7 linked regions of the Homo sapiens genome follow. The protein of the gene in region 1 purifies or fractionates together with the protein of each later gene. This does not show direct contact. Each region holds a gene or a part of one and is shown on either strand. Other genes may lie near its edges. The genes, in order: FAM241A, SEMA3A, MAN1A2, TPBG, LECT2, AGPAT3 and KLHL26.

What was found.
Region 2: the proteins of FAM241A (region 1) and SEMA3A purify together in Homo sapiens (co-immunoprecipitation; one large-scale study listed by IntAct). This does not show direct contact.
Region 3: the proteins of FAM241A (region 1) and MAN1A2 purify together in Homo sapiens (affinity purification with mass spectrometry; one large-scale study listed by BioGRID and IntAct). This does not show direct contact.
Region 4: the proteins of FAM241A (region 1) and TPBG purify together in Homo sapiens (co-immunoprecipitation; 2 studies listed by BioGRID and IntAct, with this or other methods). This does not show direct contact.
Region 5: the proteins of FAM241A (region 1) and LECT2 purify together in Homo sapiens (co-immunoprecipitation; one large-scale study listed by IntAct). This does not show direct contact.
Region 6: the proteins of FAM241A (region 1) and AGPAT3 purify together in Homo sapiens (affinity purification with mass spectrometry; one large-scale study listed by BioGRID and IntAct). This does not show direct contact.
Region 7: the proteins of FAM241A (region 1) and KLHL26 purify together in Homo sapiens (affinity purification with mass spectrometry; one large-scale study listed by BioGRID and IntAct). This does not show direct contact.

Annotation. Positions count from the first base shown.
Region 1 is NC_000004.12:112,190,153-112,193,330, forward strand, and holds part of FAM241A (uncharacterized protein FAM241A), read left to right. Parts: 3' UTR 1-3,178.
Region 2 is NC_000007.14:84,191,906-84,196,691, forward strand, and holds the start of SEMA3A (semaphorin-3A precursor), read right to left. Parts: upstream 2,885-4,786; 5' UTR 2,682-2,884; coding exon 2,570-2,681; intron 1-2,569. UniProt on the Homo sapiens protein: Involved in the development of the olfactory system and in neuronal control of puberty. Induces the collapse and paralysis of neuronal growth cones. Could serve as a ligand that guides specific growth cones by a motility-inhibiting mechanism.
Region 3 is NC_000001.11:117,373,553-117,377,579, forward strand, and holds part of MAN1A2 (mannosyl-oligosaccharide 1,2-alpha-mannosidase IB), read left to right. Parts: intron 1-4,027. UniProt on the Homo sapiens protein: Involved in the maturation of Asn-linked oligosaccharides. Progressively trim alpha-1,2-linked mannose residues from Man(9)GlcNAc(2) to produce Man(5)GlcNAc(2).
Region 4 is NC_000006.12:82,362,010-82,366,798, forward strand, and holds the start of TPBG (trophoblast glycoprotein precursor), read left to right. Parts: upstream 1-1,807; 5' UTR 1,808-1,899; intron 1,900-2,234; exon of another isoform or gene 2,235-2,320; intron 2,321-2,613; 5' UTR 2,614-2,952; coding exon 2,953-4,215; 3' UTR 4,216-4,789. UniProt on the Homo sapiens protein: May function as an inhibitor of Wnt/beta-catenin signaling by indirectly interacting with LRP6 and blocking Wnt3a-dependent LRP6 internalization.
Region 5 is NC_000005.10:135,952,091-135,956,916, forward strand, and holds the start of LECT2 (leukocyte cell-derived chemotaxin-2 precursor), read right to left. Parts: upstream 2,894-4,826; 5' UTR 2,744-2,893; coding exon 2,698-2,743; intron 878-2,697; coding exon 781-877; intron 1-780. UniProt on the Homo sapiens protein: Has a neutrophil chemotactic activity. Also a positive regulator of chondrocyte proliferation. Does not show metalloendopeptidase activity.
Region 6 is NC_000021.9:43,965,946-43,969,972, forward strand, and holds part of AGPAT3 (1-acyl-sn-glycerol-3-phosphate acyltransferase gamma), read left to right. Parts: intron 1-2,000; coding exon 2,001-2,170; intron 2,171-3,172; coding exon 3,173-3,334; intron 3,335-4,027. UniProt on the Homo sapiens protein: Converts 1-acyl-sn-glycerol-3-phosphate (lysophosphatidic acid or LPA) into 1,2-diacyl-sn-glycerol-3-phosphate (phosphatidic acid or PA) by incorporating an acyl moiety at the sn-2 position of the glycerol backbone.
Region 7 is NC_000019.10:18,660,886-18,664,912, reverse strand, and holds part of KLHL26 (kelch-like protein 26), read right to left. Parts: intron 653-4,027; coding exon 470-652; intron 1-469. UniProt on the Homo sapiens protein: May play a role in endo(sarco)plasmic reticulum (ER/SR) mitochondrial signaling. May be part of the ubiquitin-proteasome system (UPS) and affect ubiquitination and degradation of target substrates in cardiomyocytes.

The sequences.
Region 1 (3,178 bases):
CAATCAGGAAAGGCAAAACTTACAGAATGATAGAGGAAAAATTACAGTATAAGTAAAGGTCTGTTGTAATATAGAAAGCTCAAAATAGTCAAAGCCAGGTTTGGAGCAATCAAAGGCTATTCGTGTGGTTCATAGATTGTTTTAATAGTTATTTTACAAATGTTTATTAATTTCAGGTGTTTAAAATGCTTTCATTACCAATTTATGGCTTTACAATTGAAGGGAGAAAAAAAAATGTAAGACGGCCAGGCGCGGTGGCTCATCCCTATAAAAGTGCTGGGACAGCACTTTGGGAGGCCGAAGCGGGCGGATCACCTGAGGTCGGGAGTTCGAGACTAGCCTGACCAACATGGAGAAACCCCGTCTCTACTAAAAAAAAAAAAAAAAAAATACAAAATTAGCTAGGCGTGGTGGTGCATGCCTGTAATCTCAGCTACTCAGGAGGCTGAGGCAGGAGAGTCGCTTGAACCCGGAAGCCAAAGTTTGCAGTGAGCCAAGATTATGCCCTTGCACTCAATCTGGGCAACAAGAGCGAAACTCCATCTCAAAAAAAAAAAAAAAAGACTTTCATGCCTGGTAATAGAGTTGGCCGAGAAGAATATAAACTTATTTACAAACTATGACTTCAGGAGTATTGGTGGATTAGAGGTCATTTGCAACTCTTGTCTCTCTGCCCAACATTTAATTTTTGGTATGCGTTGGAGTTCAGTCCAACAGCCTGCTCTCACATCACTCCACACAGCAGCTCGGCAATGTCACCACTCCCGTGGCTGCAGAGTTACCATTTGCATCCTAACAGCTCCCCAATTTGCATCTCTAGATCAGAGCACTGTACAGAATTTAAGACTCCTACATTCAATTGCTTGCCCAATATTTATTTGCATTTGGTTATCCCATAGTACCCAAGACTCAGCGTGTCCAAACGAGCGCAGCATCCTTCTCCCAAATCTTTAATTCCTGTTTCCCATCTCAGCAAATGACACAATCCTTTCCCTAACTGCTCAAGCAGGAGTTGTAGATGACATCCTTGACTCTGTGTTTCCTACACTACCTACATGTAACCAAGTACCAAATCTATTTTACTTCTAAAAATATAATCTTTCTACTTCTATTCATTCCTAGCATCACTGAGTCCATTCTGCCATCATCTCACCTGGCATGCTGAGAATCCTGATTAGCCTCCCTACCTTCATTTTCCACTTTGTAGTTACAGATCTTTCTAAAGAATTATTCTAACATGATTCTGATATCCTTGACCTAAATCTTTTCAATGGCTTTCTGTTTTCGTTATGATAAAGTCCTTATGCCTTAATATGTTTTACAAGGCTCTTCATGTACTGGTTCTTGCGTACCTCATCTCTCTATACTGCCACTCTCCATTTCCAGGATTCAACTATACTGAACTTTTCCCCAGTTCCTTTAAAGAGACATGCTTTCTTACTTCCAGAACTTTGTACATGCTTTACTTCTTTAACTGCTCCCTACCAGACTGACCAATATCTACACAGCCTTAAGACCTCAAGTGAGACATCATGTCCTCCAGGGAAACTTCTCTGACTCCTTTAAATCCAGTTTTGGTTCTTCATTATGGCTTGGTTTCTCAAGTGCAACCCTGTGCTTTCCAGGTCAGCACTTCTCATGCTATATTGCAATAGCTTATTTGTCAGCTGCTGCTTTAATAATTGATTAATTATTAAATTAATCAATAGGCTTCACAAGGGAAGAGAACATGTCTGTCATTCTATAATTGCATTGCTAGTGCCTAACACAATGCCTGGGACATAATAGGCCATCAAAATATTTATCAAGTAAACCCACTTCATCTACTCATGGTCTTCATATAGACCACTAACAAAAAAGATCTAGAGCTGGTTGTACTTTGAAGTTCTTTGACTCCAAAAGTATACTTACTGTGCACAAAGAGCATGGGTTGATGTATACATTATAATTTATAAAGCTATTCACTTCTGATAAAAGAATACTGCTGTTATTTGGATACATACACAGTATTTCCACTATACACTTGTGTATTTTAGGAGAAAATGTATTTTCAATGTTTGGTTGATTCACTATTTTTCCAAAAAGGATATTTTACAATACCTACGGTCACTGATACTACCAGAACTTCACTTTTGTTCAGTATTTTTTAATAGACCTTTATTTACTACATTTTAATTTTTTAATTTTTTTCTTTTATTTTATTGTTATTATACTTTAAGTTTTAGGGTACATGTGTACAATGTGCAGGTTAGTTACATATGTATACATGTGCCATGCTAGTGTGCTGCACCCATTAACTCGTCATTTAGCATTAGGTATATCTCCTAATGCTATCCCTCTCCCCTCCCCCCACCCCACAACAGTCCCCAGAGTGTGATGTTCCCCTTCCTGTGTCCATGTGTTCTCATTGTTCAATTCCCATCTATGAGTGAGAACATGTGGTGTTTGGTTTTTTGTCCTTGCGATAGTTTACTGAGAATGATGATTTCCAATTTCATCCATGTCCCTACAAAGGACATGAACTCATCCTTTTTTATGGCTGCATAGTATTCCATGGTGTATATGTGCCACATTTTCTTAATCCAGTCTATCATTGTTGGACATTTGGGTTGGTTCCAAGTCTTTGCTATTGTGAATAGTGCTGCAATAAACATACGTGTGCATGTGTCTTTATAGCAGCATGATTTATAGTCCTTTGAGTATATACCCAGTAATGGGATGGCTGGGTCAAATGGTATTTCTAGTTCTAGATTCCTGAGGAATCGCCACACTGACTTCCACAATGGTTGAACTAGTTTACAGTCCCACCAACAGTGTAAAAGTGTTCCTATTTCTCCACATCCTCTCCAGCACCTGTTGTTTCCTGACTTTTTAATGATCGCCATTCTAACTGGTGTGAGATGGTATCTCATTGTGGTTTTGATTTGCATTTCTCTGATGGTCAGTGATGGTGAGCATTTTTTCATGTGTTTTTTGGCTGCATAAATGTCTTCTTTTGAGAAGTGTCTGTTCATGTCCTTTGCCCACTTTTTGATGGGGTTGTTTGTTTTTTTCTTGTAAATTTGTTTGAGTTCATTGTAGATTCTGGATATTAGCCCTTTGTCAGATGAGTAGGTTGCGAAAATTTTCTGCCATTTTGTAAGTTGCCTGTTCACTCTGATGGTAGTTTCTTTTGCTG
Region 2 (4,786 bases), on another chromosome or scaffold:
TCTTATTAGATATGTACACCCGCTACAAAGGCCACTTTCCTGTTTTTACTTCTTTTTAACATGTCAAGTCTCTTTCATCTCCTACCAGGCAAAAATGATAAGTAGAAAGTAAGCACAGTGATTGCCAGAAACTTCATCTTGGCAACCTGAGCAATGAGAGAGTTAATGGTGGATCTTTGAAAACAAGTGACCATGGGAAATTAAGGTTGGCAGGGATTTAACTCTTCATGAATCATGCTGGAATATTTTTAAGGGCAATGCAGTGGATGTTTTAACTGTGTTTGACATCTAATTAAGGAGAAACAAGAAGTAGCTTTAAAAAAATCTCTATTGTACTTTAGAAACAAAGTACTGGCAATTGGCTACCACATACTTGCTTTGGCCAAACAAACGTACATGTAGAGACAAAAAGGTAATGACAGATTAATAAAATAACAGAAAAAAATTTCCTCAGGCCATTCCTTTTATTCTTCTTCCTGTTGTTCATTTCACAGTTTATTTTACCAAATTATTAAGCTCTAGGTGTATCAATGGGATTGTTATGTAGCTGTAAAGCAGTTTTTTACTTAAAGGAAAGCAGAATAATTCTAATGGATGCCATCACTAAAACAAGGCTTATAAAGACAATATCAAATATATACACCTTGCTAATATATACTGCTTGCTTCATCAGATAGGTTTAAGGCATATGTGTACAACAAAGGATATTCAAATTAAATGTAATATTTTTAATGTACAGAAAGAACAAGTGCCTCCTCTATCATGGAGAGTAACCTATTATCATGGAAATAAAATTCTTGCAAAATAAAAAAGTTTAATTCCCTATTTTTATTTTATTTTAAAATGAATTTAGCACTTAGATATATTCAAGCCTAGCAGATTTTTAAAATATATATCATGATTTTAAACTTGTTAAACTAAAAGTATTACAAATAGCCAGTCACATCTTTGAGAACTAAAGTTGCATGTAAAACTTATAGGGAACATAAACTTGGATAAAGTGGACCATCAACTTAGACTTATTTGATGTCACCTTGTCAAGGAGTGAAAACAGAAAGCAAAACTGATAAAAACACAGACACCATAATATCATATACTATGGAAATAATTTAAAGACAGTTACTAAATTAATTAAATAACGCTACATGATTTTTTAAAACTTACATAAGTACAATTGCACTTCTGTTTGTTGATGTTTAAGTCTCTATTCCCAACTTGATACTCAGGAAAACATTACACCAAAAAGTAAATAGATATTCTAATTCAATGCATTTCATTTAACGAGCACTAAGTCCAAAGAAACACATTACTAGGTGTTTAATTTTCTAATTCAAAGTGTGAAAATTACATCTCTCTTCTGATTTGAGATCCTCATTCACACTAGGGCATTCAGAAAAAGATGTTCCCCATCATATGAGAATTAAAGAATATGTTTTGTGGCATAAGAGCAAGGTACAGTAGACAGACATCTCTACAAATACCTTCAATAATTTTTATTTTAACTTATAGGCTAAAAAATAAGCTTAATTAGAGCTTCTCACTGCTCCACCCCCAATTTTAGAAATCTGAGAATCATAAGAAATCAACACCTTAGGGAGTAAAACTACTTGAGTTAAAACAGTTTAATCTTCAACTCCATTTTAATAATACCTGAGTTATAGAAAGATTTACTGCCACTAAATGTATGTATATCATTTTGGGCTCTACTTTAGCATTACTTTACACATCATCTATCTATAAGACCTATCTAAGCAAATGTGGAACAAACATAAAAAATCCTCAATAAAAATAAGCACATACATTAAATTGTAACCAAATAAAGCACTAGTGATAAAGCTCTTTTTTCTCTCTTTAATTTATACTTTTCAAAAGAGAAGTTTACACAACTACCTATGCAAGCAGACAGTAATGTGTCTGCAGTTCTCACTGAAGTACATATAGAATTAAATAACATAATATTTCAAAGACTTTAGCTTTACACAATTAGCCAAATACAGTCTTTTGTACAATCATAAGGCACTGTGGAAAAACTAGTCTGTTCCATCCAGTTTATGTTCTCTTGGCAAACCATGATCTACTGCTTATGTTAAGCATCTGATTGTCAGATTTGAACAAACTGAATATTCATGATGACGATTAACCATTTCATGTCTAAAACTAAGAAAATGCAATTCATCATAGTAATTATAGGTAAGGCATGCACATCTACAAAGAGACCATTTTTGCATTTCTATTTTTAAGAAAATATTTTAATAGAATTAAAGTCGGAAAAATTAACAGGCATAAGATAGGATAATAAGATATACAGATCAGCGTGTACCAGGCATACAGCTCTTTTCAGCAAATGTGATTAAATGTTCTTTGTTTGCATTTAAGTTGTCATATATCAAACAGAAGACATGCTTTTTACAAAAAGCGTTTAAAGCATCTCAGAAAGATACACATAATCACGTCGGTTTACCAGGTTAAACTAAAGGTTTGATGATTTGGGGTTGGGAGGGAGTTCAAGGAATTAAGGGGGGGGGCGGTTATTACAAAGCTAACCAAATAAAAGAAAAATAAGATTTACCTTTGTAGGATAATTTCAGCCTTGGCACATTGTTCTTCCCATTCTGATAGTTTGCTCTTGCTGTAAGTAATACTCCCCAGAAAAGACAGACAATCCTAGTTAACCAGCCCATGCTGCAGACGCTGTAGGTCCCTTTGCTGCTTTAGTCTTCCTTCCTGTATTGTGCGGCCAGAGAAGTTCAAACAATCTGGAAACTGGAGGTAACAGGTGATTTAGGTCAGTTTCATTCATAAATGCAGACAATCAAGACCTCATGGCAACACTAACACCTCTTCTTCTGTAACAGTCACTGAAGCACAGAAACTTCAAACCCTCCAAAAAGAAAAAAAAAAAAAAAAATTCCGAGCCAGGCACCGGATAATGAGGCACAACTGTTGTGTGGAAAGAAAAAAAAAAAAAATTAACAAGGTCTGCTGCAGTGGTGCTTAAGAAGCAGTTCCTTTTATCTAAGCTCCTCTGATAGCCGGTGGCAGTCTCTAATCCTGCTCCCTGCTTCATTCGGCTCCGGGGAAGCAGAATGAAAGGGAAACAGAGAGAGAGAGAGAGAGAAAGAGAGAGAGAGAGAGAGAGAGAGAGAGAAACCGTGAGCAGCGCGGACTTTTCCTGTACGCATGTAGAGGGAGATGACACAAGATCCCACAGACAGGTTTCCCCAACACTCACTAGACTGGCTGACAATGGGAGAACAGGCGAGCTCAACCTACTCCCCTTCCCTCCTGTCACACAACACATGCAAAAAACATCTCGTAGAGATTAGAGCCGGGAGCAGAACCCTCAGGCGTGCCTGTGAAAGGCATGTAGCTATAAATTTACTTCCCAAGGCAAGCGTTGTTTTATAGCCATTTTTGGGTGCAATTTTGATTTTAAAAATCTGAATTCTGCTACCTACAAAATTTACAATTCATGCTCATTATACAATCCTGCTGAACTTGTGCATTGTATGTGTGCGTGTGTGTGTGTGTGTGTGTGTGTGTGTCTATATATCCTCATCAATACAACTTTAACCACTGAAGGTTTTAAAGCCTTGTTAGAGATCATTCCCTCCTCCCAACAAACCCCCTGGGCTCAACCACCCCCTTCCTCTGTCCCACTGCAATTTCAGGGAAGAAATTCCTACTAAAGCCCATTCCAACAATCAGTTCAAGACAAATATAGGTCCTTTGAGAATTATAAATTACAACGGGGGATTCTCAAAAGGATACTCAGAATTTAAAAACGTCTATGGTTTTCCAGCTTCTGGAATGCTCTGGCTAACATTTTCAATGCATCACATCTCATTAATTAAAGACACTTCCCTAGTTTTGGTTTAAAGGGCAGCGGAAGATGACAAAGTTCACAAAAGTCCCTGCTGAGTGTCAAGGAGTAACATGAAAAGAATATCTCTGTGTCTTCATGAGCTGCTGAAGGGTTACTAAATTTTCTGTGGGACGTATAGGCATGTATTCAGGCAGTCATATGAACACCATTAGTTCCTTCTGAAACAAGTAGTTGGCTGTGGCCTCTCAATTTTCTCTCTTATTTTTCATTCAGTTTTCCTCAAAGCTGATATTTTTACAAGAATCTTTAGGGGATGTATAAAAAAGTTAACAGGACAGAACTTTCTCTCCTTTATTCCCCAAATGATTCTGCCCTACCCCCTCCTACCACCACTCCCCACCCCCCACCTCCAGAACAGCACTTGGAATCCAGAGACTCAACTTCAATAGTAGGGAAACTTCTTGGCTGAAGGGAGAGAGTGAGTCTCACAATTAAAAACATAAACACCTACTGAAAGTGGCTTAGTATTCTTAAGAAAATGATCTAAGCATTGTCACTACAGCTTTCATTACTTAATGTCCACAGACCAATAGAGAAAGCACAGCGCTCGCTCGCTCTGCTTTCTCTCTCTCTCTCTCTCTCTCTCTCTCTGTCTCTCCCTCTCTGCCGTTGGATGTGTGGCTTGTGTGAATGTAGGTGGAGAAGGAGGAAGAGGAGGATTTAAAGAGGGGGAGAATGGGGAAAAGGGAGTAGGAATTCTCTCTCTACTTCACTAGATTGACTCATCAAACAGATCTTATTGTATTTGTCAGTTTCCTCAAGCCTATTGATCAGCCAGTATTGTTAAGAAAATAAAATCCAAAAATAATGTTGATTTTACTGATTCCCACACTTGTTATACTAGGCACTTTCACGCTCTAGGCAATGGATTAAGGCTACAAATGACAAGAGGCTTGTCTG
Region 3 (4,027 bases), on another chromosome or scaffold:
CTATAGTCTCAAACTCCTATGCTGAAGTGATCCTCCTGTCTTAGCCTTCTGAGTAGCTGAAACTATGGGCATGAGTTGGGACTACAGGTGTGAACAACCATGCTAGGTTAAGTTTTAATTTTTGTAGAGATAGGGTCTTACTTGTTGCCCAGGCTGGTCTCAAACTCCTGTGTTCAAGTAATCCTTTTACCTTGGCCTCCCAAAGTGTTCGGATTACAGGTGTTAGCCACTGCACCCAACCGAATCTTATTTTTATCGATATGGATACTTTCAAATTGGAGCTCATGCCTAAGATTGGAAAGTTGGTAATGCAGAAGCTAAGTATCTTCTAGAAATCAGTAGTACATGGTAAACATTAATTGATTTTTTTTTTTAAGTGAAAGCAAGTTTATTAGAGGAGGAAAGAAACAAAGGATTATAGGCAGAGCAGCCAATTTATTTTTAACTGGGCAAATGTTTTGTTTACTATTGTTTGAAAATTATAGAATATTTAACTTATGTGGGAGGTGGAGGTGGGAGGATTGATTGATTGAGGCCAGGAGTTTGAGACTAGCCTGGGCAACATAGTGAGACCCTGTCACTGCACATACTCGCACATGCACACAGCTGGGCATGGTGGTTGGTGCCTGCCTGTAGTCGGAGGCTGAGGTGGGAGGATCACTTGAGCCCAGGAGTTCGAGGGTGTAGTTAGCTATGATTGTGTCCGTGCATTCCAGCCTGAGAGACAGAGGCTCTGCCTCTTTAAAAAAAATTAACTTCTGGTTTGGGCTGACTCCACATATTTCTTGGATAGGAAAATCATATTGCTACTTTTATTTTCCCTAGTTGTGCAAATTCTGTCAGAAAAGTTTATTTTCACTGCTATTGAATTTTTGCTAGAACTTTATTCCTGTTAAAACATGGTTGTAATGAAGTCTGCACTGGAGTTTTATTTTCAGATTGGGTATTAGGATTTGTCATTAAAAAAAAAATCTCCTTCAAAGGGCATTCTTTCCAATGATCTGTTTTTGAATTTAATGTAGTCCAGAAGGAAGGCATCATTATATATTAGAAAGAACATTGGACTCAGTGTTAAGAGACAGGGGCTTTAGTTTCACCATTGTCCTTGGTTGTTGAAGTATATTTAGATATGCTATTCAACTTCTCTGTGCCTCGATGTTCTTATTTATGAAATGAGGGAATTGATTGAATCTTTAAAGATTTTTTTCTAGCTCATGCATATGAAATACAAGTAATTTTATGAAGTAGGGAACTGAAGAGTGTGCAGTAATTTAGTTCATACATCTCAAATATTACAAAGATAAAATGTATTCTAAAGGAATTAGTGTCTTTTTTGTATATAAAAATTAGTTTAAAATCACTTTGGAAATGACTAAAATTTATTTACATAATATTATTATTTACATAATGAAATCTATACCGATTTAAAATGTGAAAATGAACGAAATGACTTTTATACATTCTTGTTTCTTGTTAGTTTTAAAGTATAGTTTATTGAGCATTTGATATGCCAGCCTGAATGTAGTGGGTATATTTACAAAATTGTTTTCAGGTGTCATTTCTTGAGCCCAGTTATCAATTACACGTCTTCACCTGTTACCTGAGACTTTAGGATAGATTCTGTGGAATACAGTCCTTGACTGAGGCCTCAGACCCTTTGAAGGCTCTTACTACTCCTGTGGCACAATTTTCTTTGATTTAAGGCTATAATTTCCTTTTTTAAAAAAATTTATTTTAATTTTTTAACAAAACACACCTCTCATGGGAAGGACTATAATTTCCTAACCTTAATATTGAGAGATTCCACTGAAAGTGTTCTCTCCTGTTCTCCATATCTTAAGAACAACTTTTGGGACAAGTTATACAAATAGTTTTTTTAAAAAAAGAGGAAATTAAGTAATCTGGAGATTACAAAGAACACAGGTGTTGTTTTTCCTTTTGACTTTTTAAAAAAATATTTATATAATCAACCTGTTATGTAGCTCTCTTGGCCTCCCCTTAGTGATGTTGATATTACCATTAAAAAATATTAGTCACAATCATTTGTTCAGCAAGTGTTTTGAGTGTTTATTATGTACCAGGCATTTTGCTAAATATTGGAGATTATTAATGAATGTTACAGAAGATTAATTTTGACTATTGAAAAATTCAGATCTTAGACTCACGTCTTGATATTTTTCTTAAAGCATATTATTATGTTTGGAGCCAGATTCCAGGGGTCTTAGAGATAACTTTCCACCTATGGGAGGTTCTGGTACAGGCATTTAGGTCATTGGCATTTTTTAAGAGTTCAGATAAGTTATTCTATCTCTCCCCATTTTTGTTTTCTTTTTCTAAGATGTATTTAAGATAATTAATTTATGTTTTTTTTTTTTTTGAGACGGAGTCTTGCTCTGTCGCCCAGGCTGGAGTGCAGTGGCGCGATCTCGGCTCACTGCAAGCTCCGCCTCCTGGGTTCACGCCATTCTCCTGCCTCAGCCGCCCGAGTAGCTGGTACTACAGGCGCCCGCCACCACGCCCGGCTATTTTTTGTATTTTTTGTAGAGACGGGGTTTCACCGCGTTAGCCAGGATGGTCTCGATCTCCTGACCTCGTGATCCGCCCGCCTCGGCCTCCCAAAGTGCTGGGATTACAGGCGTGAGCCCACTGCGCCCGGCCCTAATTTATGTATTTCTAATATACGGTCTGGGTTATCTGGTATAAGGAAGATGGATGCTGCGGTCAAGAATAGGTCGAGGCAGACATCCGGTCCAGCATGACTCAAGTGAGTTTGGAGTGCAGGCATACAGCTCCGCTTATTATGTAACCATGTCATGTGAGGCGCATTAGGTGATCACCCATGTGAGTGTGTGCTTGGCTTGGAGCCACTATGGTCTGTGAAAGGTCTAATTACCCTGCTAACGTGGTACAAAAGGCTCGCGCCAAGGCTCGCTCACGCCCAGAGAGTAAAGCCATGTTGAAACTATGATTCCTCTAGTGTTTTTCCAACTACCTGCCACTCACCCACCAACTCTCCTCAGACCTCAGTTACAGCCTGACATCTGGAAAAAAGAGACAAATATTTTGAAGCGTTTTGGTAAGGAATCAGGCTCTGGCATCTGAAAAGAATTCCTAACATTGTGTGAAGTTGAGATCTGGTACCTTTGTATGTACAGTTGGCCCTCTGTATCCATAGGTTCCACATGTGTGGATTCAACCAACTGCAGGTTGAAAATATTCAGAAAAAGTTAAAGATGATTGTGTCTGTACTGAACATGTACAGACTATTTTTTCTTGTCATTATTTCCTGAACAATACAGTATAATCACTATTTACATTGCATTTACATTATATTAGGTATTATAAGTAAGCTAGAGTTAATTTTAAGTACAGGAGAGGTTGTACATGGGTTATATGCAAATACTACAGTATTTTATATAAGAGACTTAAGCATTTGTGGATTTTGGTTTCCAAGGGAGGTCCTGGAACCAATTCCTCATGGATATCAAGGAACAACTGTGTTTATATTTAGCCATATATACATGAACATATTTACATATGGCTATATATGGTTATATCTGTATGTTTATAATGTTATACATGCATACATGACTTTTTTCCAATTAGTTGGCAGTCAGGTGGCATCTGATACAAAGTTTGTATGTGTTTGGTGTGTATCTGTTAAATATAATAAATGAGGATTATTTTCTATTAATTTGTGTTGTCATTAATAAATATGTTTTCATGACCTAGATTTTTTTCTCTCTACATAAAAAGATTGGTAACACGCTGAGTAAGGTGAACATTGAGCCTCTGGCTCTTCTTCAGTGCCGTTGGTGTAAATGTAAATTAATAGAATTTTCATAAAGAGCAATTTATTTATATCAACTAACTTATAGTGCATATTCTTTGATTCAGCAATCCTTCTAGGGATTTATCCTTGGGAAATTTTCACAAAGAAGTGTTCAAATCACTTCTTTCACAAATCCGTGTGAAACTGAAGTTTCACAAATCAGTGCACAAAGAAGTGTTCAAGAATGTCCCCTGA
Region 4 (4,789 bases), on another chromosome or scaffold:
TTTTTTCATTTGTACAACAGAACAACAACAATAATAGCAACAAGCAATAATACTAACAATATTTATCTTGCCTCTGAGTTGTCTTGAAAATCAGATGAGTATATATATTATGTTTCTAAATTCTAAAGTGTATCTCACTCTCCTAACAAAGCAGTTGGTCTTCAGATCAGGACCAGAGTTAATACCATGCCAGAGCATTATTACAGGTTTTTTCCAATGAGTAATTAATTTTATTTTTAAACTTATCATACAGTAAAATTGACTCTTTTGGTTTACAAAGTTCTATGAGTTATAACACGTTGTATAGGTTTATGTAACCACCACCACAATCCGGATACAGAACATGACTACAGCTTTAGAGATTCTTTTTCAAAGTGTTTTACATTCATGTTGCAAAACACTTTTAAAAATAAGAAAAGAGATGTAGATAAACGTGCTGAAGATGCAAATTAATGAAACCAGCTTTTGTGCACAAATCTCTGCAGTTTCCAGTGTTTTCAGCTTTTGTCTGAGCCATTTTTGCTGTCGGCTTTGCAGACTATCTCTTTCTATAAAAGTAATCAGGCGTCCGTTGGAGAGTTGGGGTCTTTCTTCACACTAAAGGCACATGTCCCAGGCACAAGCCTCAGGATCCTTATTTGATCTTTTTTAATACGACCAGGTCTTAAATTTCCGAACCATGTTTTCCCTAATTGCCATTTTCTCTCTAAAATGAAGAAGCCTGGAAGAACCTTCTTATCCCTTCGGGGAAATTATTTAATTGGGACAAAGGGGATGTGGAGTTACAGAGAGCAACGATAGGGCTTTCAGAACCCAAAACCTGTCTGGTATAATAACAGATCCTTCCGGTAACCAACCATTCAATTTGTCCCTCTCCCCAACCCCATCCTCTCCATCACCATCTGCCAGATGCCCCCTGGGACAATCGACTTTGAAACCAAACTTCTCTCCCAGGTCAGCTCCTGCAATCCCCACTCCTCATCCTTGGAGCTTTCTCCACAGAAGTGACTTGACACACCGCGCTACATCTGGGGAGGGGGGCGGGTCCGCTTTCCGGGAGACTCAAGTCTTTGCTATTTGCCTTTTGTTTCTGGGATGCCTTTGGCTGCCTTTCTCTTCCATCTGCTTTTAATTTTGGTAAGAGAAAAGCTAATGAATCAGGAATGAATCTCCTCTCCACTAATCTTTTTTTTTTCTTTCTCTCTCTCTCTCTCTTAAAGTTGGCGCGCTCTCTTCACAAGTTCCATCACTACCCAAGAAGTGAGGGGGCGGGGGGGACAGGCGGGAAGGCATTAATTACACCTAAATCTGAAGTTTGCGGCCTCAAGTACCACTTTGATGGGGAGAGCTTCTGAAGCTTCCATACAACCTGCCGTGCCTTTGCTGCTGCCGCAGTAGATTTTCAGCTCATTTCTTTCTGCTGCTGCTTCGCGCTGCTCTGTCATGCCTAAATCTATCTCGTCACTGCCAAAGGTGCCTGAATCAGGGTGAATTCCACGAGATTCACCAGCGGTTTTGCTCCAGTCCAAGGTAAATACAGTATGCAAAATGAGGAACCACCCAAGGATGTCGGGGAGGGGGGAGAGAAAGGGATTCCCTCACCTTTTCCGGCACATTCCTCGTTAATTTCCACCAGGAGGAGGCGCGCAGCCCAGCTCCCCTAGTCTCTCTTCTTAAATCCCCCTACCTACGGCTGCCGAGGTTGGCCGCGCGTCGGGAATCTCCCCGACAGTCCTGGCCCTCCCCCGCCCCCCGGGTTGGTTTTTCCCAGCTGCGGAGGTTGGGAGGTTGGGCCAGGGGCTGGGGTGCGAAGAGAGTCGGCGCCCGCAACGCGGAGCCGGGAAGTCGTCGCTACTCTGGTGGAACTCAGAGTTGGTTCTGGAGGCGGCGGACGCGGAGGTGAGCAGTGGGAGCCCGCGGCCTGGGAGAGACCCGGGAGGCGTCGTTGGGGCCCCTCCCCATCCTCGGGTGGAGAGTAGGGTTGGTTCGGGTTGCCACTGTACCCCGAGTCCCACTGCTGCTTTGTTCCCAGACTCTCCCCTCCTCTTTGGAGATGACTTGAACCCCTTTGAGATCCGAGGGGCTGGCGGGGCGCGGGCTGGGGGGCGACAGTTGTAGCTCCACTTCCTGCTAATGCGAGAAGGTACAAAAAGAGATCAAAAAGTCCTGTAACCTGAAACTTCCCTCGCATCCTAACCGGGACCTGGTGGAGAGGTCTGGGCGGGGGCGGAGACACCCGGAGGCCGACCTTCCGCCGAGGCGGTGCAGGAAGGAACGGGAGAGGGAGAAGTTTGGTAGGGAAGGAATTGGGGATTAAGCGGTAAGTTAGACGCGGGAGACGAGTCTCCTCGGGAAAGGCGGAGGGCGGGAGGCCGGTCGGGTTTATTTAGTGTGGGCCAGGGAAGAAGGAAGACTTTGCGGTCTGGGTGTCGGATGCGCGTCCCCCTCCGGAGTAAAAGTGACCGGAGGGGTTGGGGAGGCGAGGCCGGGGCGGGCTTTTGGAAGGAGGTCTCTGGGACAGACTGGAGACGACTAGACTCGAAAAGGCCGGTTTTTGCACTCCGGAAGCCGCGGCAGCCACCGCTGTTCACGCCTCTCTCCTGCTTGTCCCAGGTCCCTCAGAGGATCCAGCGAGGGGCGCCAACAAGAGGCGAAGAGGTGGCACCAGGGCGGCGGCAGGAAGAGGAGCGGGAGCAGGAGCGCGGAGCGGAGCGTCCCGACCCGCCGTGCGTACTTTCTGGAGGGAAGGGGCGGGGGAATCGGCCCCTGAGGGAAGCGCCCGGTGGCGAGGGGGTTAGCCAAGTTCCGGCTGCGGCGCCACTCCCTCGGTTCCACGAGAGGAAAGTTTTTTTTTTCCAGACGCTTCCGCCGGCTCGCGCCCTCCGGGCCCAGCCTCCCGAGCCTTCGGAGCGGGCGCCGTCCCAGCCCAGCTCCGGGGAAACGCGAGCCGCGATGCCTGGGGGGTGCTCCCGGGGCCCCGCCGCCGGGGACGGGCGTCTGCGGCTGGCGCGACTAGCGCTGGTACTCCTGGGCTGGGTCTCCTCGTCTTCTCCCACCTCCTCGGCATCCTCCTTCTCCTCCTCGGCGCCGTTCCTGGCTTCCGCCGTGTCCGCCCAGCCCCCGCTGCCGGACCAGTGCCCCGCGCTGTGCGAGTGCTCCGAGGCAGCGCGCACAGTCAAGTGCGTTAACCGCAATCTGACCGAGGTGCCCACGGACCTGCCCGCCTACGTGCGCAACCTCTTCCTTACCGGCAACCAGCTGGCCGTGCTCCCTGCCGGCGCCTTCGCCCGCCGGCCGCCGCTGGCGGAGCTGGCCGCGCTCAACCTCAGCGGCAGCCGCCTGGACGAGGTGCGCGCGGGCGCCTTCGAGCATCTGCCCAGCCTGCGCCAGCTCGACCTCAGCCACAACCCACTGGCCGACCTCAGTCCCTTCGCTTTCTCGGGCAGCAATGCCAGCGTCTCGGCCCCCAGTCCCCTTGTGGAACTGATCCTGAACCACATCGTGCCCCCTGAAGATGAGCGGCAGAACCGGAGCTTCGAGGGCATGGTGGTGGCGGCCCTGCTGGCGGGCCGTGCACTGCAGGGGCTCCGCCGCTTGGAGCTGGCCAGCAACCACTTCCTTTACCTGCCGCGGGATGTGCTGGCCCAACTGCCCAGCCTCAGGCACCTGGACTTAAGTAATAATTCGCTGGTGAGCCTGACCTACGTGTCCTTCCGCAACCTGACACATCTAGAAAGCCTCCACCTGGAGGACAATGCCCTCAAGGTCCTTCACAATGGCACCCTGGCTGAGTTGCAAGGTCTACCCCACATTAGGGTTTTCCTGGACAACAATCCCTGGGTCTGCGACTGCCACATGGCAGACATGGTGACCTGGCTCAAGGAAACAGAGGTAGTGCAGGGCAAAGACCGGCTCACCTGTGCATATCCGGAAAAAATGAGGAATCGGGTCCTCTTGGAACTCAACAGTGCTGACCTGGACTGTGACCCGATTCTTCCCCCATCCCTGCAAACCTCTTATGTCTTCCTGGGTATTGTTTTAGCCCTGATAGGCGCTATTTTCCTCCTGGTTTTGTATTTGAACCGCAAGGGGATAAAAAAGTGGATGCATAACATCAGAGATGCCTGCAGGGATCACATGGAAGGGTATCATTACAGATATGAAATCAATGCGGACCCCAGATTAACGAACCTCAGTTCTAACTCGGATGTCTGAGAAATATTAGAGGACAGACCAAGGACAACTCTGCATGAGATGTAGACTTAAGCTTTATCCCTACTAGGCTTGCTCCACTTTCATCCTCCACTATAGATACAACGGACTTTGACTAAAAGCAGTGAAGGGGATTTGCTTCCTTGTTATGTAAAGTTTCTCGGTGTGTTCTGTTAATGTAAGACGATGAACAGTTGTGTATAGTGTTTTACCCTCTTCTTTTTCTTGGAACTCCTCAACACGTATGGAGGGATTTTTCAGGTTTCAGCATGAACATGGGCTTCTTGCTGTCTGTCTCTCTCTCAGTACAGTTCAAGGTGTAGCAAGTGTACCCACACAGATAGCATTCAACAAAAGCTGCCTCAACTTTTTCGAGAAAAATACTTTATTCATAAATATCAGTTTTATTCTCATGTACCTAAGTTGTGGAGAAAATAATTGCATCCTATAAACTGCCTGCAGACGTTAGCAGGCTCTTCAAAATAACTCCATGGTGCACAGGAGCACCTGCATCCAAGAGCATGCTTACATTTTACTGTTCTGCATATTACAAAAAATAACTTGCAACTTCATAACT
Region 5 (4,826 bases), on another chromosome or scaffold:
CTGTATCAATCAAGTGCATAAACTTTGCAGTATAAGCTGAGTCTGAATTTTGGCAATTCAAGGGACGTTTCCCATATTTCCCTTCTCTTAGTCCTGTTTCAGTATTTGAGGTTGCTTTGTAAGTAGTATCTGTATATGTGAGAGTTCCCCTCTAGTTAGGATGGAGATCAGTGATATGACTGGACACATGGCTATTTCATTAGAAAGTGGCACCCCAAGGTGATGTTGGGTATAACTGAAAATTCACAAGTGTGACCCTCATTTTCTGGAAGAGATAGTGGTGCTTTCTCTCCTGCTTAGGGCCAGCCTCTAATATTCAACATCCAGAGCCTGAGCCAGTAACCGCGTGGTTTGGTGGGAAGAGGAACCAAAAGCCTGAATTCAGGTCCAGGCTTCACCATCTCCAACTGTGCTTGGCAGGTCCCTTAACCCTTTGGTACCTCAGTTAAAGTTTCTCTTCTATAAAATGGGATAGTTGTGTTTAATAACCCTTTGGAAAAAAACAGTTGAGATAAGTGAATGTGTGAAGACATTCAGAAGGAAAACATTGTGTTTGCTCCCTGATCTTTTCCTTCTTCCACATTCTGATCCCAATTTATAGCTCATACTTGAAGCAGAGTTCTTGGAAGCTGCTCCAAAGACAGTGATGTAACTGGTTACATCTCTGGTTTTTCATGCTGTCAGAACTGTGAGCCCTTGAGGCAACCAACGTTGGGCAAGGACACTAAGAAAAGAGGTTAGGGACCAAAGGGTTGGGTGGGTGGTTGTGCAACTTCATACCTTTGAGCAGAGTACTGTCCACAGCCATGGCGGTCACACGTCCGGATCTCATTGGAAGACTTGCCAGCACATATATTAGCCCATGGCCCTGCCAGTGCTAAAAAGGAGAAAAGTGAGAGCAGAGCTCCTGGCCTCAGACATTTCCTATCCCCATTTGCCTTATCAGTCACACAGTTGATCCTGACAATTCTGTTTTCACTGTAGTTTTCCCTGGACTTTATGTATTTATGGGAAGATCGTCCTTCCAGAATTTTATTTCCTGATTCAGATGTAAAATTGGCTTTTTCCCTGGCCACAGAATTCTGCTTTGTGACGTTAGAGTATCAGTGAATACAATTTTTTTTTTTTTTGGATCGGAGTCTCACTCTGTTGCCAAGCTGGAGCACAGTGGCGTGATCTCAGCTGACTTCAACCTCCATCTCCTGGGTTCAAGTGATTCTCCTTCCCCAGCCGCCTGAGTAGCTGGGACTACAGGTGCGCACCACCACACCCAGCTAATTTTTGTATTTTTAGTAGAGACGGAGTTTCACCATGTTGGTCAGGACGGTCTTGATCTCTTGACCTCGTGATCTGCCTGCCTCAGCCTCCCAAAGTGCAGGGATTACAGGCGTGAGCCACTGCGCCCAGCTGAATGTGTTTCTTTATAAGCATTGGCCTCCATCATTATACTTTGCTTCAGATCCATTAGTAAATGGTATAAGTTGTGCTTTTCTATTTTTCTTTGCTCATTATCTGCCATGGGGATCATTATTTTTAGATTAAGCAAAAATAATAAAATAGCATGGCTCAGAAAATAATTTTAGAAATTGTAATTTTGAAATGGTTAGTTCCACTAATCAAATCCAAGCAAATGTTTGAATTAAAGGAGAAACGAACTCTGTACTAGCCAAGTTTGTTTAACACTAGATAAATCTCTCATAGTTGCCAACATGGAAGAGGGAGATTCTTAAAAATAATCTGAAATGTCAAACCAATTTAGCCTAGACTGAGATTAGGGGTGAAGGTAGGAGAAGGAGTAGAACCAATTATATGAAAAATTATGAAACGTGGAGGAGGGGCTGCTTTCTCAGCAGACTTGGTGCAAACTTTGTTTCAGGCACAATTTGTTTCTTTACTATAGTAAGCACTTAATAAATGTTCAATGGAATTAAATGTCCTGGATTTCCAGTGTTAACATTCACAGAGAGATACAGTGAGCACACTCAACCTTGCACTTTGAAACAAACAAGCAAAAGCGAGAGCCTGGTAATTTGACTATTGATTTTATTTAAAGACATTTTACTCTTCATTAATACCTATCCTGTGAAGAGAACCTACAGAATATGGCCATTAAGCCTCTTCTTTAAAATACTTTTAAAAGGTGGGTTTCAAAAGTTTTATGCCTTGGAGCCAAGCTCCAAATCAACACCTTGATCAAGATATAATCCCATCACTTTGGCAACTAATATTTATCCTTGGGAATTGAGGCAAATATCAGACAGTGTAGTAATTTATTCACTTTTTCCTCCTTCGGTGAGTATTAAGGGAGCCATCCCTTTGTCTTAATCCATACCAGTCTCTGTATTAGTATCTGTATCAGAATTTGATTTTGATCAAAATCAGAATCAAATATTTATATCAACTTTTTATTATCTAGTTTTGTTCTAGTTAAGTCCCAGACCCAGACTCAGACTGAAAGGCTTTGTAATGTCTTCTCAACCCACTATTATGTTTCCCTCATTAAAGAACCGGAACATTCCATTTAAATTACTTAAAACATCCTCAGGACCATGTGTCATTCCTATTTCATTTTTAATAGCCAAATACACAAGTCTTTGTTGTGATCATGCTATTAATGACTTTTTAATCTTTTTAGTCTTCCCCTGAAATCAGTTTTTAAAAGTTAATCAATATTCTAAAATTGCACTTTCGACTTACCGGTAGAAATCAGACCAGCCAAAAGGAGGGCTTTGGTGGAAAACATCTGGTTTTACTTCCTTTAGTTTCTTCCTCTGATTAGAGTTGCCCCCACACTCTCTTTGAAGAATATTCAAGTTTGAATGAATACTTCCTAGCTATTTAGCCTTAGAATTCTGCATCTCTCATTTCTTTAGTGTGAGACACAAAAAGTTTAAGAGGATGGAGCAAGTCAAGTTCTAATATTCCATGGATAGCTATTTGATTTGCAGGTAGGGCCTATGTAAAAGCCTTTGATCTGAAGAAGAAGCCAATTATATTGGAAATACTGACTAAATATTAACAGAAAATGATAAGGCTAGGTGCATATCGACAGTCTTCTGGGCTGTGGCTTGTAGGAGAATGTTCGTGCGAATGATGGAATATTTAGTGCTGCCTGCTGGTAGATCTTTCTTTTATTTCCTTGATAGCACATATTTCAGAAGAAAATTGGTCATTAATAATGTGTAGCCCTTCATAACATATTCCTTAATATATCCCTTAGGTGTTTTTGAATTCTCAGTTTAATTATATTTCACCTGTGTAATATTTGCAAATAACTTTAATATTTTAATAAAATTGCATGTATTCACCTTAAATATGTGATTTTTAAATGTTTTCTTGTTTATGATAATGGTAAGTTAACACCATTAAAAGCATCCATCAATAAAGGAAAAAAGATTAATTATAATATAGTCATTGATATGGTTTGGATCTGTGTCCCCACCCAAATCTCATGTTCAATTGTAATCCCCAGTGTTGGAGGTGGGGCCTGGTGAGAGGTGATTGAATTATGGGGCTAGAGTGCTCATGAATGGGTTGGCATCATCCCCTTAGTGCTGTTGTCCTGATAGTGAGTGAGTGAGTTATGGTGAGATCCGGTTGTTTAAAAGTGTGTAGCACCTCCCCTGTTCTCACTTCCTCCTGCTTCAGCCGTGTAAGACATGCCTGCTTGCCCTTTGCCTTCCGCCATGATTTTCAGTTTCCTGAGACGTCCCAAGAAGCTACCATGCTTTCTGTACCTCTTTTCTTTATAAATTACCCAATCTCAGGTATTTCTTTATAGCAATGCAAGAACAGAATAATACAGTCATACAACAGAGTAAAATATAACAATTTAAATGAAGACAATCTACATGTATTAACACAGCTAGATCTCTAGATATACTGTTGAATTAAAAAGCTATTTTTAGAATTATATATATAGTATCATACTATTTATAATATGTAAAATCTGAAAACAAGTATATTAATCTTAATGAATGCTGTATGTATAATAAAAATATGCACAGACTACCTTTAAGGTACTAATTACTTCTGGATAGTGAGAGAAATAAAACCGTGGAAGGATATACAGAGTACATAAACTCTAAAATATTTTATTTCTAAAAAAAGAAAAAAATCAGAAGCAAATATGTTAAAATATTAATTTGTTAATTATTGGAGATAGACACATGGATGTTATGTTACCCTGTACTTTTCTGGGGAATTAAATTTTCAGTGTGTTTCAAATATATGTTAGCAGCTCCTTTTTAGCTTAATATTAGATGAGCACCTGGAATTTTCTATGGAAGCTTCCCCATTTAAATTATGTGCCAGTAGCTGTGGGAGATTGGGATTGTAGCCCCAGTTCTTCACCCTCTCTGCATCCACACCTTTGCCATGTTTCATGGGGGCAAAGGGAACTTTCCTCACCCTTGATTTTGGGTTTAGCTGTGTAGCTTTGACCACTAAGATGAGGCAGAAGTGGCAGTGGGTCGGGAAAGCCTGGGTCTTCTGGGGCCTTAGTCTTTGCACACTCCTTCCTGTGTTTCTACATCGCCGTGAGGCAGATGATCCTGCTGCCCTGGGAAGGGAATGGATGCCATGCAGAGCACAGTTGCCCCTACAAAATCCAGCTTAGTATACCCTATGAATGTATGGGCTTAACTGGCTGTCATTGGAAGCCACTGAGTTTTGGTGTGGTATGTCACACAACAATAACTAAACGATGCCAATGAGATTATGCACCTAATTGTTTTTGCTTCACACACAACCTTTCAAGGAGGCATCTAATGTATACAATATAGAATGCCAACGCATTGAATACATCAAGGATCTGAGTCAATGTA
Region 6 (4,027 bases), on another chromosome or scaffold:
AAATAGGCTATGGCTGGCTTACTCATTGTGCTTTAGGGAAGCATGTATTTGAGTGAAGGAAATGATAAAAGGAATTTCATATCGGGCCCAGGCGCCGCCCACCCTGCAAGACAGTTTACAGATGCCTGCCCTGACAGCTGTCTGCAGTTAGCCAGCGTCAGCCGAGGGGTCCTGAGATCCGCTGAAGGCTGCCTTTGCATGCCGACAGCAAGGGAAAAGTGCCACATGTCCCTGGGCTTGCCACAGGTGACCTTTGGATGGGACCATTCTCCAGACAGCGCAGCTCGTCTTTCCAGAACACTCATGGGGAGTGTGCCTGTGTCTGGCTGGCTGTGTGGGCTCCCATTCAGTTCATTCCCCTTCTCCAGCCTTTAGGCATGACCCTAAAGGCAGAGGTCTCAAGCACTTGCCAGGGGTGAGCCAGCGGTGGGGGCGCCCCTGCCAGGGCAGGCCTGCTGTGGGGGCTTGGTCAGCGAGTCTTCTCCCCACACGCAGGATTTCCTCCCGTCCACTGCCTCTGCCCACAGGTGACCTTTCTCTTTTAAAGGAATTGGGGTCCCTTGGTACCCCCACAAACCCTGAGTTCCCTCTCTCCTTTCTGCGTCCTTTCTGCTCGCCTGCATGTGCCTGCAGCATCATGACCGCTGGGAAGACACTTCCCTGCACCTGCACGCTGTCTGCAGGCGTCTCTGGCCATCCTGGGCTGAGCTGCGTGATCTCGGGTAGCGGCCCTTTGTTCACCCGTGCAGGATGTCTTTGGAATTGGTCTCTAGTGTCCTTTATAAATAACTGGTATAAAAGAACCCCGGGCAATGGCCTTGCAGAAAGCCCACACTTCAGAGCTGGGCTGGTGTCCAGCGCGAGAAGCCTGAGGCCGTCCTGAGCTGGAAGCCGCGTCCTGGTTCTGTGGGGCCATCCTTCCCGGACAACTGGCTGGGGGGCACAAGACTCTGGTGGCCGACAAGAGGCCCACCTGCTTGGCCTCCCTCTTGTCCTTCCCCACATGGCCCTCTGAACAGGACTAACTCCCTCTGAGGCCCACGTGTGACAAAGATGCACCGTTCTCACCACGGAACTCTTCAGCCCTGCAGTTCTCCCGAAGGTGAATGAGGGCATCCCAGAGTCCCCATCAGGAGACAGACGATGCTGCGTTCCCAGCAGCCCCAGAGCCCTCCCAGGCGTGCAGGTCTCCTGCCGGCAAACAGATCTCCCGGCACGAGCCCCTCCACACTTCTGGGAAGAGTGTCTTCAGCTCACCAGGCCGGAGCCAGGGGAAGAGACCAAGGGAGGAGGCTCCAAGAACCCCTGGGTGGGGGGGACAAGCACTCAAAGCCAGGACTGGCACCCCTCACATGCCAGCACCCACGGGGTCAGGTGTGCCCTGCTGTCTCTGGGGACCCCGCAGGCCTCTGGCCACCTGCCCAGCAGCAAGCCCCGTCGAGCACCCCCAGCCGGCCTTCCTGGGGGCGGGCTAGGCCTCACATGGCTTTTTTTTAAATATGGAAAACCAGTGTAACCCCAAAGCAAGTTTTAGGAGAAAATATAATTCCTATTACTCTGTCGTCTATAATTCCATTCTGCTCTTAACTCTTCATTTTTTCCCACTGTCTGTTCTGCAGACATACGATGGTTGTTTTCTGCTTCCTAATCATCTAGTGACATTTTTCATCTTCTGCACCTCTCACGGGGCGTGGCTGTGCGGTACTCGGCCACACCAAGGTGCACGTGAGAAGCGTAATTGGGCGTAAAGATCAGCGTCTCCATGCAGAGTGGCGGTTCTCTCCCTTTCTGCTGCTACCTTCCATCTGTCTCCTCCCAACTGTTGCTTAGAGAAAGTTATTGTAATTTCATAAAACGTACTCAGTGTAAGTCATCAAAACTCATGTTTAGCAGAGACTTCCTCTCTGGACAAAAATACTGTAGGTGTCTCCTGTGGGCGCTCCCTGACCATCCCAGGAGGAGGGGTCCTACCAGTGCCAACGCCCTCCCCCTGTCCGCAGAACTGGTCATGCTGCTGGAGTGGTGGTCCTGCACGGAGTGTACACTGTTCACGGACCAGGCCACGGTAGAGCGCTTTGGGAAGGAGCACGCAGTCATCATCCTCAACCACAACTTCGAGATCGACTTCCTCTGTGGGTGGACCATGTGTGAGCGCTTCGGAGTGCTGGGGGTGAGCGGGGACCTGGGGAGGGCCACGGGTGAGCAGGAGGGTCCCGGGGAGGGCCGGGGGTGAGCGGGGACCCAGGGAGGGCCGGGGTGAGCAGGGGGTCCCTGCAGGGCTGGGGGTGGGGTGGTGACTGGGAGTGAGCTGGGCGGGGTCCCAGGAGGGCTGGGGATGAGCAGGGTGGGGTGGTCCTGGGGAGGGCTGGGGGTGAGTGGGGGGTCCCAGGGAGAGGCTAGGGTGAGCACCTTCCAGGGGAGGTGCTGGGAGTGAGCGGCAAGGGTCCTGGGGAGGATCTGGGGGAGTAGGCGGGTGCTGGGGTGAGCAAGAGGGCCCTGGGTGGGGGAGGTACTGGGTGGAGCAGTGGGGGTCCCAGCAGAGGAGCTGGGAGAGCCTTGGGTTTCCCAGGGAAAGGGCTAGGGGAGCAGGGGACTCCCTGAGGAGGTGCCGGGGAGGCCCCTGGGGTCCGAGTCCCTGGGTGTTCCTCCTGGGGCGTCTCTTTGAGCTCGGCAGTGGTGCCTGGCTGGTTGAGGGGCCCTGGCCCGCAGGGCCTCAGCTGTCCCCGAGCTGTGCCCTCCTTTCTCATCATGGCCTTTGCCTTTGAGATGACCCCACCTGCGTCCCTGCAGAACCACTTCCGTTAGCTAAGCTGCCTCAGATGAAACCTAAACTACTCCCCGATGCTGGCAGAAGAATTTCATTGCAGTCAAAGCCCCTGTGTGAGGCAGCACCCCCAGGCCACCCCCCGGAAGCCTGGCAGCCTCTGCATCCGGCTCATCCACCTTCCCTGAGGGCCCTCCCAGCCAAGCCTGAGCCTCAGTTTCCTCATTTCTGGGGCGACCCACTCACCCTCAGAAGCCGGGTCCTGCTTCACAGCAGACCCCCTGAGCCACAAAGCCGTGACTCCTAGAGCGACACCACACAGGAGCTGGGTGCAGCGGGAGCCTGGCCAAGCCCCTGGCCTCTGTCCGACGCTGAAGTGCCAGGTGCCCCTCCTTCTCCTCCCTCCAGAGCTCCAAGGTCCTCGCTAAGAAGGAGCTGCTCTACGTGCCCCTCATCGGCTGGACGTGGTACTTTCTGGAGATTGTGTTCTGCAAGCGGAAGTGGGAGGAGGACCGGGACACCGTGGTCGAAGGGCTGAGGCGCCTGTCGGACTACCCCGAGTACATGTGGGTGAGTGCGCGGAGCAGCCCGATACCCTGCATGCCTGGAGGAGGCCACGCCAACTCCTGATGCACGGCTGCCCACATCCCAGGCTGGGAAACCCCATGAGAGCCTCTGCACATGGGGTGCTGTTTCCATGGGGCCATGACTCCCCCATCTGAGCTGCAGGCGTGGAGGCTTCTCTTGGGCCACCTGCTTGCTACTCGCCGCAATCCCAGCTCTGACCAGGCCATCCTAAGGGGATCTGGCCGGGGGAGGGGGCAGAGCAGGGTGCCCCCAGTGAGCCCTGGCTCTGCCCGCCCTGCTCAGTGTGCATCCCCATTCTTTTTCTGTCCCTTCTTCCTGGTCTGTCTTGGAAAATGGGCTGCCTGTGCTGTTAGCATTTCTGTTTTTTTGTTTTCTTGTTCGTTTTGTTGTGTGTGTTTTTGTGTGTGTGTGTGTGTTTGAAACGGAGTCTCGCTCTGTCGCCCAGGCTGGAGTGCAGTGGTGCAATCTCGGGTCACTGCAACCACCACCTCCCAGATTTAAGCGATTCTCCTGCTTCAGGCTCCCAAGTAGCTGACATTACAGGTGCGTGCCACCACACCTGGCTAATTTTTTGTATTTTTAGTAGAGATGGGGTTTCACCATGTTGGCCAGGCTGGTCTCAAACTCCTGACCTCAGGTGATCCGCCCACCTTGACCTCCCAAAGTGCTGGGATT
Region 7 (4,027 bases), on another chromosome or scaffold:
ACATTAAACCTCTCTCTAAAATCAGAAGGGGCCCGGAGCGGTGGCTCACGCCTATAATCTCAGCACTTTGGGAGGCCAAGGCAGGCAGATCACGAAGTCAGGAGTTCAATACCAGCCTGGCCAACATGGTGAAACCCCGTCTCTACTAAAAAATACAAAAAAAATTAGCTGGGCATGGTGGCGGGTGCCTGTACTCCCAGCTACTCGGGAGGCTGAGGCAGGAGAACTGCTTGAACCCAGGAGGCGGAGGTTGCAGTGAGCCGAGATTGTGCCACTGCACTCCAGCCTGGGCAACAGCGCGAGACTCCATCTCAAAAAAAAAAAAAGAGCAGCCGGTACCAGCCGTTCTCCCTCGAAGCTGTCCCTGGGTAGCGCTGAGACAGGCCCCCTTTAGAAAGTGGGTGCCATCTGCCCTGTCCCTGTCCCAACAGGCAGCCGCCCCTTCCAGCTGCCTGGGGCCAGCACTTACCTGAAGTAGTCGCTGCAGGCAGCCAGGACGACCTTGTGTGCAGGAAAGGCCTCTCTGTTAATAGTCAGCACAACATCGAGGAGCTGGCCCTGAGCGCGGAGGGTGGCCAGGCCCTGCAGGAGGCTGGTGCTGTGGCTGGGTGCCGAGAAGGTGCACTTGAGGGCCCCGTTCTTGTCGGCCGTGCTGCGGGGAAAGCAGAGGTGGGGACATGGCCCAGAGGTTCACACACACACTATTACCTTGAACACAACACTCAGTGCAAGAAGCCAGACACAAAAGGCCGCACTGTGTATGACTCCACTGACGTGAAATGCCCAGAACAGGCAAATCCGCAGAGACAGGAAGCAGATGGGTGCCACCAAGGGCTGGGGGAGGGGAGGGGGGAGTGACTGCTGATGGGGTGGGGTCTCCTTTTGGAGGGATGAGAATGTTCTGGAACTAGACAGAGGTGGTGTTTGCATACCACTGTGAATCTACTAAATGCCACTGAATTGTCCACTTTCAGACAGTTTTATGTCACGTGAATTTCACTTCAATAAAAAAACCAAAGGACACACGGGAGCCTTCTCAAGTCCCCTGCAAGCCCCGCCACAGCCCCCTGCACCCCAGAGTATACGAGCCCTCTGTGGTCCAGCCCCCACTGCCCCTACTGCCCCCTCATCCCCTCTTCTCCAGCCCCACCACCCCTTTGCTATTTCATTTGGGGAAACTGTTGAACGGATCAATGAATTAATAGCTTAGGAGCCGTTAACACACCACTTCTTCCTCAGAACACAACAGGGGGTGGACCCTGGTGCCACCTCCAGGATCAGTCCCCTCTAAGACCCCCACCCCCACCGGGCTGAGGCACCCTGCTCTGTCCTGGTGGCCTCTGCCCTCTGGAATTTGCTCTCCCATTCCTGGGACCCACGCCTGCCTGTAAGCAAAGGCCAGGAATGCGGGCACTGATCTTTCCAAGAAAGCGGGAGGAGACGGAAGGCTCCTTGGCCCCACTGCCAGCCAGCCCCAAAACCACAGTGGGCATTAAAGAGCCAACGTCAAACACAGGGCACACAGTGGGCACTCAGTCAACATAGCAGCTGCCACCGGAGGTCCCTGACCTCCCCTTCAGACCACCCTTCCAGAGACCCTTGGGAAAGGGTGAGTGATCAAGACAAACTGCCGGGGAGAGGGGCTTCAGGGCCAGGCGCTGACCACAGCCCTGCAAGGCACCACAGGCAGAGAAGTTGCCCAAGCCCCAGCCCTGCCTGCGAGGCACTGCATGTCCTAGAGGGTGGGGACATAGCACGAAGGACCCAGTGTGGGGCCTGTGCTCAGTGGAAAGCCTTTGAGTCCCTGGGGAAGCAGGACATATGCTACTCAGAGCCCAATGCCACGGTCATCTGGGCTGGCCAGCAATGCTGCGGTGCTGGGGGTGCTGGAGCCCAGACCTGGTGTTTGCCTGGGAGGGTGGGGGTGCAGCCTTTTGAAAGCTGAGGAGGGCAGGGAAGGAAAGGGGTCCAGGTGCACCCTGAGACTCTGGCTTGTCCCCGTGGCCTTTCCCCTGCCAAGTGGAAGGGACGCTTACCTCCCCTCCTCCCTTCCTCCCCTCCCCACACATCGGCCCCGATCCCACTTGACCAGGCTGCTGCCCTGAGCCAAGCCTTGGCTCTTTTTTCCCTAGACCCATGACAGATCCAGATCCGAGGCTTGTGAGGAGCATGTCGCAGGCTCATGGGCCGCTCTCCCCTATCCAGCCCCCCACAGGGGTCCAGCACCTGCCTGGACATCTCCAGGGCAGGGTCTCATTGCTTCCCACGAATGGCATGCCCTCTCACCGACACCCTGCGACGGGTGTCCAGGCTGCCTGGGGCCAAAGCCGCATCCTGCATGTGCCTCTGAGGACCCTCAAGGTCTCTCCTTGTCCCCAGTTTGCCTCACTGGCTTTGCAAACTCCTCTTCCCTGCCCGTGCATGCAGGGATGCTGCGTAAATGAGACGAAGTAGGCCCCGTCCTCATGGGCACGCGGTCCAGGCAATGGGGACCAAAAGGGGTCAGATCACCCAGAATCAGCTTTGTGTTGCAGCTGTGGCAAGGGTTGTGCATTCGGGCTCTGGGTGACCCCTGCCGGCCTTTCTGTGGACACTTTGTCTCCCAGAAGTATGCATGGGCCTTGCCAGCCTTTGCCATTTTGATTTTGGTCTGGTTTTTCCTTAGAAGTTCAAGGAGATTTGCGGGGAGGGATGGGAGGACTTCTCGTGCCTCCTGTAAAGCCCTTGGAGGCAGGTGTGCATGTGTACATTTTCATCAGAAGAAACACGTTGCACTGGGACAAGTTCACCACGGGGCCACTCAGTCCTTAGGAGCATATTTACCATGCTCTTCCATATATAAAGAGCATCAAGAAATCAATACAAATTAGCCAGGCATGCTGGCATGAGCCTGTGTTCCCAGCTACTTGGGAGGCTGAGGTGAGAGGATCACTTGAGTTCGGGAGGTGGAGGCTGCAGTGAGCCATATTTGTGCCACTGCACTCCAGCCTGGGTGACAGAGTGAGATCGAAAGATGCACAAAGAATGTGGGCTAATGGTTCCCAGGAAAGCAAGCAGAGCTGGCTAGAAGGACGTAAGAGTCAGCCTCGCTTGCAGTCAGGGAAGCACACTCTCGGGGGGCTTATGAAGCAAGGTGACCCCCAGGAAGGCAGCTGCGTAGACTCAGCAACACTCTAAAGGCTCATGTCCTTTACCCAAGAACTCTATTTCTGAAACTTACCCAAATACAATCTCTAGGGGCCACAGACGAGAAATAAGCTAACCACCCTTAAAGGAGATTCGTGGAATCACAGCACCTTCTGAGTGAGGGCTGCCCTATAGATGGGTGAGGAGGCTGACGCATCCTGGGGAAGATGTTGCATGCAGGGGATGACGTCAAGGCTGCAGGAGGAAGGAAGAGGCAGAGTGCACACAGTGGGATGCTATTTGGGCTCAAAGTGCCACACATATGCATCTGCCCATGAGTGCACAGAACATATCTGGAGAACTGAGAAGTTGGACAGAGAGGACCTCCCTCTGGGGAGGAGAGGAGCTACTGCCCTGCACCCTGCTACTCTGATGACTGAGGAACAGGAAACCAGGGAGGTGGGCCAGTGTTCCAAACATGGGATCTGTGGGTTCCCCAGCAAGCAGAGAGGGTGCCCGGAACCCAGAAGGCAGGATCAGTTCAGCTGACTGGCAGGGCATCTCAGAGGAGACATCAGGGGCCAGCAGCCTGGGCCAAGCCAGCTCTGGTTAGCTGGGAACTCAGCAGTCACTCAACCACCCAGGCCTCAGCTACAAAGCAGGGGCAAATGACCATCCAGCTCCCCAGCCCCAGGGCCGCTGGAGGATGAGATGAGCAAACGCAGAGCCCTGGGACCCAGGCTGCCACTAGCACGTGACGACTACACACTCGGAGAATCTGGATGCTCCCATCTGGAATTTAGGACACCCCAGGCCCAGAAAGCAGGGTGAGGCCCATCCACTGCTGGTTACAGGGCACAGGGCCCACGCTGGACCAAAGAGGGGAGGAAGCAGCTTGTCC